2 separate regions of the Homo sapiens genome follow, and region 1 is linked to region 2. The links come from fine-mapping of genetic effects on gene expression. A gene starts in region 2. The other region holds a variant in brackets. All regions are shown on one strand. Distances are between the middles of the regions.

Evidence for each region. PIP is the estimated chance that this variant, and not a neighbour inherited with it, causes the effect. A credible set is the group of variants that fine-mapping cannot tell apart.
Region 1: its variant is the best candidate, but not a certain one, in a credible set for the expression of PVALB in lung (TOPMed, PIP 0.85).

Annotation. Positions count from the first base shown.
Region 1 is chr22:36,836,013-36,841,380 of GRCh38, reverse strand. No RefSeq gene overlaps it. Among named protein-coding and RNA genes, the nearest start is that of PVALB, 22 kb to the right of the region's middle. The variant C/G (reference allele first, on the strand shown) is at 2,062.
Region 2 is chr22:36,813,801-36,819,168 of GRCh38, reverse strand. It overlaps PVALB (parvalbumin), which reads left to right and starts at 2,134. Exons shown (of 4, transcript NM_001315532.2): 1 at 2,134-2,224; 2 at 3,934-4,066. The coding sequence starts at 2,164.

The DNA.
Region 1 (5,368 bases), 22 kb before region 2:
AGTCATATAATACATTAAAAATAAAAGAATATTTGGAGGCTTACCTCCTAGTGGTGGAATTGCTGGAACAAAGGGCATGTGCAGCTTTTTCTTTTGTTTTTTTTTTTTTAGATGGAGTCTTGCTCTTTCACCTAGGCTGGACTGTGGGTGCAGTGGTGTTAGCTCACTGCAACCTCGGCCTCCCAGGTTCAAGCAATTCTCCTGCCTCAGCCTCCCAAGTAGCTGGGATTACAGGCACCTGCTACTATGCCCGGCTAATTTTTGAATTTTTAGTACAGATGGGGTTTCGCCATGTTGGCCAGGCTGGTCTTGAACTCCTGACCTCAAGGGATCCACCCACCTTGGCCTCCCAAAGTGCTCGGATTACAGGCGTGAGCCACCATGCCCAGCCACATGTGCATTTTTAATTTGGATGGAAATCTCAAAATTTCCCTCCTAAAATAGAAATTTACATTTTCTTAATTCATTGCCATCACTGAATACAACTGTACTTAAACATTTTTGACCATCTGATAAGTTAAAAAAGTCTCTGATTTTGGTTTGTATTTCTCTGATGGCAGAGGAGGCTGAGTATATTTTCATACATTTATTGGCCTTTTGTATTTTGCATTTGTATTATTGGCCTCCTGTCTGTGCCTTAGGACCCTCCTTTCTATTGGACTGTTCATCTTTTTCTTATTGATTATGAGCTATTTGTAAATCAACAGCATTGGTCTTTTTTCTAGCACTTGTCTGAAAGTATTATTTGGCCATTTTGTTGTTTGCTTTGAACTTGGTCCATGGCATTTTTTTTTAACTCTCACACAAGTTTTAATTTGCTACAGTAATGTTTGTCAATCTATTTGTTTATGGTTTCTGGGCAGACTCATGTCTTCAGAGCTGTCCCTATCCTTGCCAGCAGGTTGAAGGAATTTCCTGGGTGGCTAGGTGACATGGCAGCCACTGGATGTGTCCCCAGGCTCGCCCTCCGCCACCTCCATGTGGAGATGCCGCCCCTCAGAAGATTCAGCAAACACAGCCCCTTGGCCTGCTCCAAGAAGGTGGCTGCCCCGCCTTTCACAGCCAAATTCAGGATGCACCTGGCTTTCGTTTTCCCCTGACATCCAGCTCCTTTTAAGGAGCTATGCATCTTATACGTTTCTTAATCCCCCAACTAAATTTACCAGCTGTTGCTCACAGCCAAGACATCAGCTAAATTAAACTTTGGAGTGGCAAACACGGTGTATCAGATGCACTTCAGTGAGCCATGGTGGGAGCAGCCACGCCCCATCTGTCCTGAGGGCTGGGGGTCATGCTCTCCCTTCCCTCCTGGAATCTGGCCACAGCAGCATCTTCCTTCCCTCAGAAGCACTAGGGTCCCGCCACTGGAGGACCATGGGTGTATTGAGTTACTTCCACCATTGAAAAGATTCTTCCTTTCATTCTACAGGTATTTACTGAGGGCTCAATTATTGACAGGCACTGTTGTGGCAGTGGGGAAACACCTGAGGTTTTCTTTCTCGTGACAGAGAGAAATGAGGAACAAATGAATGTATAATCCACAGTTGAGCAGCAAGAGAGCCTCGGAGCAAGGGAAGCAGATAGAGAGAGAAGTGAGGGTAGGGCTGGGTGTCTCTTCGGACATGGTGGCCGGGGAAGGCCTCTGATGAGGTGACATTTGTGTAGAGACTGGAATGAGGTCCTAGACACAGCCATGTAGGTATCTGGGGGAGAAGGTTCCAAGGCATGTTCTAGAACCAGCAGGGCAACTAGCAGTGAAGGAGGAAGGGCTGGGTGGGAGGAGAGGTGGAGCGAGTTGTGGGAAGATGCTAGCATTCTCCTCCATGTGCTATGGGAAGTGAGTCAAGGTTTGAGAATTGGGAGAAGGGTGAGGTGTTTTCCATCTGAAGTGTGTTTGGTTTGCATTTACCCTCTATGACAGCTTAGGCACAGGAAAGGTCAGACGTGGATTGATGGTGAAAAAGAACTGATGGGCCGGGCGCAGTGGCTCATGCCTGTAATCCTAGCACTTTGAGAGGCCGAGGCAGGCGGATCCCCTGAGGTCAGGAGTTTGAGACCAGC[C/G]TGGCCAACGTGATGAAACCCCGTCTCTACCAAAAAAAAAAAAAAAAAGAAAGAAAAAAAATAGCAGGGCATGGTGGTGCATGCCTGTAGTCCCAGCTACTCAGGAGGCTGAGGCAGGAGAATAGCTTGAACCTGGGAGGCGGAGGTTGCAATGAGCCGAGATAGCACCACTGCACTCCAGCCTGTGATGGTGAGAATTCAGGCACCCCAGAGCAGCTCCTGGGGATCCTTTGAGTGAGCAGAGTGGGTATGCCCTATGCTGCTCCTGTCACATATTGGGTTTGTGGGTGAAACTCTCCCTGCTCTGGACACACTCACAAAGCAGGAAGGTCTACCTGGCTGGAACCTGCATCCCTGTTCTCTGGAGGGAGGAAGCCCTTCCCTCACACCTGGACACTCAGGCCCAGCAGGCTCTCTGCTTGGGTCCAGCTGTGACCCTGTGTCCTGCTGCAAGGCCCCAGCTGCTCAGCCTGGCCTCTGAGGACCTGCCGGATTGGCAGGGACTGGCCGTCCTGGGCAGACACCGCAGACTGGGGCTGGCCCTCAGTGCTGAAGGCTCCTGAGTTGAACTGGCCAGCACACCGAGGCTGGCCAAAAGTGCAGCCCAGCACCAGCTTGCGAGGAGGCTCCCAGGAGAAACAATTAGAAAGCATCACAAAACACCTGGCGGACAACAGGGGCTGGAGAAATGCCAGCTCCTGCTCCAGTCACACACAGGCTCAGGCAGCATAACAGCCGTGAGACACACACGCCACCCAGGTGGTGTTGAAGACAGGCAGGGACCACCTAGGTGGTGTTGAAGACAGGCAGGGACCACCCAGGTGGTGTTGAAGACAGGCAGGGACCAGCCCAGGAGGAGCCTGACCAGTTGCTAACTTGACAACCTTACTCACACACACACACACAGACACACACACACCACACACACACAGACACACACATACACACACACCACCCCCCCACACACACATCACACACACACATACACATACATACACCACACACACACACATACACAGACACACACACACACACTGCCCCCACACACTGCCCACACGCACATACAAACACACAGACATACACCACCCACACACACACACACACACACCACCCCCCCCCCCCACACACACACACCACACACACACAGAGTCGGCTCCATATGAATAGGCTCTGATATGGTTTGGCTGTGTCCCCATCCAAATCTCATCTTGAATTGCAGCTCCCATCATTCCCATGTGTTGTGTGAGAGACCAGTGAGAGATAATTGAATCATGGGGTCGCATCTTTCCCCTGCTATTCTCATGATAGTGAATAAGTCTCACGAGATCTGATGGTTTTGTAAAGGGGAGTTTCCCTGCACAAGTCCTCTTCTCTTGTCTGCCTCCATATGAGATGTGCCTTTCACCTTCTGACATGATTCTGAGGGCTCCCAGCCATGTGGAACTGTGAGTCCAATAAACCTCTTTCTTTTGTAAATTGTCCAGTCTCAGGTATGTCTTTATCAGCAGTGTGAAAATGGACTAATACAGGCCCCATCACTCATTTCTGCAGAGTAAGGGCCCTGAGGCCCAAATATCACTCCCAGGATTCCATTGTTAAGCCCCAATTCCACCATTAAATTCCACTTGGATCACAGATGCTGCACATACACAACCATGGCCAAGCCTCTCAATTTTATGTTTATTGAACATGCAGAACAGCAGACATCACTAAAAAGGCGTCTCAGTCATGCCCAGTGTTCCAGTAAATTGGAGGTAGAAATTATGCCAATCAGAAAAAATACTGCCTTTTTGGCAATCACCAAATCACTAAAGCTTTATGTGTGTAGTCGTACTATTGGAGCATCTGCAGATGTCACACATGTAAATGCAACATGGTGGTCAATTAGAAAATCAACTCAATGTTTCTTTTAACAGATTCCTTAAGCTTCCTACATAAATCTCACTCCAAATTAACATTAGCTTTCCAAAGAGAAAAGAGCATTCTGTGACCATTTCCACTGCAATTTAATTCTTTTTTAGTTCTCAGAATGATGGCAAGGCCATCAGGAGTGAGGATGATGGCTCAGCATTTTTGGGGCCTCCTGAATATATCAAAGGGAGAAGCTAGAGGTTAAAACAGCCCTCAAAAGAGGAGCCTGTCATGTCAAAGGAATGTGCAGGAAGGCTGAGCAGAATTAATTTCCTCCTGGTATAAAATATTCCTTCTGATCATAAATAAATCTGCTCAGAAGTAACTCCAGCAAACCACGAAACTGTTTCGAGGGGGCTAAGTGGCAAATCACAGCTTTGATGGTGACAAAAGAGAAAGAAAGTGAGATCACTAGATTCAACTTTGTCCTTTCCTTGCATTCTTCAAAAGCAAAATCCCCAGCCTCCCTCCTCATCTCCCCCCACCCAAGAACTGCACATTTCTCATGGCCTAATATGAACAAAACGGTTTATGACCAGATGAGCAGACAGCCAGATAACTCTAAGGAAGAAAGAGGGCAGAAAGGCTAAGATGAAGACACAGGGTGGAGAAACTCTGCCTGGCTCCAGCTGCCTCTCTCACGTCCACCATCCTGCATCTGGCAACAGGAGTTCCCCAGTTGTCACGGGGGATGCTCCAGCTGAAAGGGTCCAGGAGCTATAGGACAATAGGACGTTACAGGCCTCTTCTTCCCACCTTGGAGAGAAGGCTCAATGAAAGAATCTTGTTTGCCTTTTATTTTTCCATTGTGTATTTCTTTTTTTTTTTTTTTTTTTTTGAGACAGAGTCTCGCCCGGTCACCCAGGCTAGAGTGCAGTGGCACAATCTCGGCTCACTGCAACCTCCACCTCCTGGGTACAAGCGATTCTCCTGCCTCAGCCTCCCGAGTAGCTGGGATTACAGGCTCATGCCACCATGCCCAGCTAATTTTTGTATTTTTAGTACAGATGGGGTTTCACCATGTTGACCAGGCTGGTCTTGAACTCCTGACCTCAGATAATCTGCCCACTTCAGCGTCCCAAAGGGCTGGGATTACAGGGGTGATCCACAGTGCATTTCTTGAATGTATTTGGCCATGGAATGCTCTATTCATCAAACATCTGTAACGGTCTGTTATAATGCAATTATTTCCATCTCAGTTTTAGCTGAGGGTCTATGATAAGAGCTGCCACCTGTTCTCACATTCCAAAGTGAGATTCCAGTCCCTGAAACTTGCGTGATTGTTTGTTACTGCAGCACAACTGAGTCCATGCGGACTGATACAGATGAGCACCAGACACGAGCCTTGCCCATCAGACACTGTTGCCTGCATATTTCAAACGGGACATTTTTTTCT
Region 2 (5,368 bases):
AGGGCTGGAGTCAGACATCTGTGGACTCTGGTGATGCCATCAGAGAGGACCCAGAGGGCAGAGGAGGACTACCCAGGGCTGATGGGCTGACCTAATGACATTGATGCTCTGGCTGGGAGGGCTCAGTCCCGGAGGGGGTGTCAAGTTGATAGGAGAACTCAGCAGCAGGGAGAGATGGAGGAAGGAGATGGAAGAAGAGTGGGCCCCTGTTGAGGCTGCAGCCTTTGCCACAGGGTAGCTGCTTAGGGGCTCACCAGGAGCCAGTGTGTGGCTGAGATGTATGGGACCTGATAGAGCTGGGTCCCAGGCACCAGGGAGGATCACCCAGAGAGTCACTGAACTCCACACGAGTGAGTCCAGGGGTGTACCCTGCTCTGCTATTGCTTTACCATGTGTCCTTAGACCATTCACGGACTCTGTGCCTCCGTTTCTCCACTGGTATAGCTGAAGCGTCCTTCAGCTGGGGAAATCCATTCTCCAACTAGGCTCCTGGAGTGAGCTGAGCCTGGGAGTTGAAATGATAGCATAGGAGCCTGGCATATCTGAGTCAGCAGCCCAGCTGGGGACAAGGTGCAGAGGTGACGGCAGTAGCAGCAGGGTCCAGGGCAGCTGAGGGGTCCTGGGAAGTCCTGGAGCTGAGAGGCATCAGGTCAGGAGCTGCATCCTTGGTGCCTTGGAAGCCATCTGGCGGGCTGTGGCTTGAAGGAGCTGACTCACAGGGAGGGGGCAGCTGGAGCCAGCAGAGGTATCCTAAGGTTTCCAGGAAGGGCAGCCATCCAGGGCTGAGCTGCAGGAGACAATGTTGACAGCGATGTCAGGGAACTTGAGTTACTGGGCAGCTGGACAGCTGCTCTCCCTGGTCCCCACCACCCAGGGCCACCACAGCCCAAGGCCCTGCCTACCTGCCAATACCTTAAGTTGCAGTCCCCAGGTCCCACTACATGGGACCACTGACGTCATCAACACATCAGAAGGAGACAGAAGCCCAGAGAAGGTCACAACCCAAGGTCACACTGGGACTTAGTGCAGCCCAGGATCTAGAACCCAGGCCTCCTGACTCCCTGTCCAGCGCTCACACACTCTAGAAGCAGCTGGTTGCAGCTTGAAACCTTGGGAACCATGGGGAAGAACACAACGGGTCTCTGGCTGCATACAGATAGGCACCGTGACATTTTTCCAGAGGTGAAGTTCAGACCCCTACACCTGCTTAGGTTGTCTAGAAAGTGTGGTCTGAAGGTGCTACCCTTCTTCCAAACACATATGGGGCTTTCTGGGAGGGAGCATAGCAATTCCAAGCGGACTCTCCCACCCTACTCTGCCCAAAAAAGGTTTATAGGAGTAGGGGGAGTCTGGACCCATGATGCCAGGACCCAGGAGACCAGGAAAGCAAGTAGTTAGTAGAGATCTGAGAAGTGTTCTTCGAAAAATCAAGCCAGCAAAAAAATAAAAAATAAAAGTAAAACATCAAATCAGGTTTTAGAATATGCATCCCTGGCCAGATGTGGGATGGGGCACCCGAAGTGGGCCCCAGCAGCTCCTGCCTGTCCCTGTCCCTGTCCCTGCCACCTCCTCCCTGCGTCGGGTGGGTCAGGTTTCAGGACCTCAGCGCTCAGATTTTGCAGCATAAATTTGCATCCAGGACAGACCAGAGCAGAGGCTGAGGTAGGAGTGGAGAGAGAAAGGGAGCAGGGCCTAGGAGGTCCTGAGGTGCAGGCTGGCCGCTGAAGGTTCAGGATCTTCCCCCACGCGGCAGGACATCCGCCAAGGTTCCCAGATCTGAGACGGCGCACCTCCTGCGTGTCCTTGACGGCAGGTGGACTTTCCAGACCCAGCTGGTGACGCCAGTGCCCCCTAAATCCCAGAGGTGGCCCCTTCCCTCGTGCCCTGGCCGCAGCCCCTGGGATCCCGCGGACCCCTGGCCTGGCGGTGCAGGAGTGGTAGCAGGTCCGCGCGCCTTCTTGCCGGCGGCCGGCGCTGCTCAGCGGCGCGGCTGGACTGAGCCGCTCCCGCTGCGCTCAGAGTCCGGGCCCCTGGCGCCATGCCAGGCCCGGCGGGCGTGCGCCCGGCGCGCAGCACTGCAGCGCTGGTCATATGAGCAGAAATGATGAGAAAAGCACTTTTTAATCTTTTCGCACTTGCTCTGCCCGCTCAAACAGTTGCAGGATGTCGATGACAGACTTGCTGAACGCTGAGGACATCAAGAAGGCGGTGGGAGCCTTTAGCGGTGAGCAAGCGCGCTCCCCTCCCCATCCCTCTCCCCTCGTCCACCGCCCGCGCCCCTGCACTCCGCCGGCCCCGCAGCCGGCGGATCCTCCCCAGCGCGCTTCTGCCCACACTTCCCGCTGGGCGCCGGCGAGGTCGGGGCGGGGGCGTCCTTGGCAGTTCCCAAACTCTGTCCGGGCGAGGCTTGGCGCGGGGAGCGGGCGGGGAAGAGGGCGCCCCGCCTAAGTTACAGAAACTTGAGGGTGCTGAAGGCCCGGTGGCTGGGAGGACTCAGGGTCCGGGACCAAGGGCGAAGACCAGGGTCGGAGGAGAGACCTCCAGGGTCCTTGTACGAGCTCTCTGGACGTCCTCTTTAAGGCACTTAGAGGGGACTGCAGGGGGCATCCTCCTCTCCAAGAGACCCCTTTCCTGGACCCTCATTCTGGACAGGACTTTTCCCGCCAGGCGGTAGCCTTTGTTGGCCCCCTGACTGTCCTAGTTCCTTTACTGAGATTCAGCAACGGACCTGCGGGCGAGGTGACCTTCTGGAGCCGGCGCACAGCTCTGCCTAAGCCCGCACGGGGCATCCTCAGTGCCTCAAACCTCCAGCCTCCTTAGGCGGGCAGGGGAGGGGAACTGGCAGTCTCACCTCTCCCAGCTGCCCGGGACTTCAGCGCTAAGCTGCCCGCCTTCCTCCTCCCCTGTCCTCCAGATGGGGAAATCAGGGAACTGTCTTGGAGAGGACAAGACATTTGCCCAAGGTCACCTAGCTGGGCAGAAGGGGTATTAGAACTGGGTTGCCCAGCCTAGTGTCGGAGGTGGACAGGGCAACTTTCCTTGTCTCTAGCCCTGTGCTGAGGGGAAGAGAACATGACTTCAACAGCCATTCCCTACACACACACACACACACACACACACACAAAATACATGATCTAACATTGTACCCTTCCCCAGGTGTTCTAAAACAGGACCCCAAGATACAGAAAATTGCAGGTAGAAAAGGACCCCCATTTCCTTTCTGCTTTGCACCCCCTCCCCTGGGCACAAGAACCTCTCTGGGAAGCCACCCTCCCAGGGTCCTGGGATAACCCTCTCCCTTCACCTCAAGCCCATGTGGGAAGAAACTTAACTGGGTGTTTCTCGGGAGCCTCCTAACACCCCCTTCCCACTGCCTCCGAAGTGGATTTCTGCGCAGAGCCAGGACTTCCGGGTTTGCCCCTCCTCCTCCCACTGTATGACCTTGAGGGAAACCTGTCCTTTCTATGTCAATTTTCTGGCAACAAAGTCTGTGGCCAAGAAAGAAGGTCAACCCTCCTCCCCCTAACCCCAGGACCATGTTCATGCCCCCTTCAATTCCCCAGCCCACTCCCAACCAGCTGGCACTCAAAAGTCTTCCTGGGCACAAGGTTCTCAGAAGAACAAAAGCCTTTGGTTCTTAGGTGCTGCTCCCATCATCAGCAATGGGTGCAGTGGAGGTGGGGCGTGGGGGCGGGCTTGAGAGCCAGGGAGGTCTGGGTTTGAGCACACCTCTTCCACTCCCAGCCTTGTGACCTTGGACAGGTTATCCTCCCTTGCCCGGGCTCCCTCAGCCCTCCAATGGAGGTGGGTACCTCTCATTCCCCATGACTGGCATGTGGGAATCCATCAACAAATGCCTTGATGCCCCCCATTCTCCCAGGCTTCCCTACCAGCCTTTCTGGTCCTTGTTTGACCCTGCTCTTCCCCCCACAGCTACCGACTCCTTCGACCACAAAAAGTTCTTCCAAATGGTCGGCCTGAAGAAAAAGAGTGCGGATGATGTGAAGAAGGTGTTTCACATGCTGGACAAGGACAAAAGTGGCTTCATCGAGGAGGATGAGCTGGGGTAAGCGGAGGCCTGCAGGGGCTGCCCAGCCCACGGCTGCACGAGAGGGAGTGGGGGCTGGGACTCTAGCTTCCAAGTGTCCATCAGACCTGCCTTTCACTCTGCCTGCTTCACAGAAAGTAACCGTGCGTGAAGGCAGGGCTCCGACCCAGGGCACCAGGGGAGAAGGCTTCCTGGTGCTATTGCTTCGGAAGAGTAAAACCCTCAGCTGAAAGTGCAACTAACTAGGTTAAATGATAGCCACTTAATATTGCTAATGGAATGTTGCTACTTAATAATTTAATGCAAATGAAGAGGCAGTTTTCTTGCTGCCTAACACCATAGGCAGGGCAGAAAGCATTCACTTGAGTATTTCATTGATTTTCATTTGTCTAAAAGACACTTTCCACCTTCCTGCAGCCCCCAGCCCTCTGGTACTAGTGTGGCTGGTGCAATTTCTAGGCAAGCCAGGGATGCAGAACCACCTCTGAGAGTCCAGGGGTCCTTGGAGAAAAGCAGAGAAGGAGAAGGCTGTGGCTAGGAAAATGCATGCCTCCATCTGCAAAAGCATCTCCCACCATAATTCCCTCAGCCACCCGGCCATGTCTACTGACTCAGGTTGCCTTATGTCACTTTCTGGCCAAGAAAGCCTTGAGTTTTGTCAAAAAGAGAAGCGGGGGGTGGGTGTAGGGAGAGGCCTTTCAAGTAGGGACTTCCCCACCCATCCTGTCTCTCCCCTAAACCATCTCACAAGGGTACCTTCTGTCTAGAATCTTCACGTTCTACCCACTTACATCCAACATGCATGCACACTTATGCACACACACACACACACACACACACACACACACACACTCACAGAGGCTGACTTCCCCCTGTCCTCCAGGTATCACCTTCACCAGGAAGCCTCCCCTCTCCTCCCCTCACCGCAGGTGGGCAGATACAGCTTCTGAGTGCCCTCCTCCACGGCCCATCACACTGTGTGGTCTCTCTCGGAGCCCGTGACCTCCTTATTTTTTCCAGTGCCTTCCGAAGATCACCACTGTGACCCCACTTTCCAGCATACGCCAGACACAGAAATGACACTTAGTGAATACTTGTTGGATAAATTAACGAATGTAGGTGCCCTCCCTGAAGTGAGGACAACCCTTCACTGAGGACAGCCTGTCCTTTCCTAAATACTCACCCACGAAAGCACAGCCACCGAGCAGGCTACCTGGCCCAGAGCATCCGTGTGCGTGACTGCTGCTCGCTGCCTGTCCCAGCCATCCCTTTCCCCATACAGAAACCAGACCACCCTCCATCCAGCGTCCTGCAAGGCGA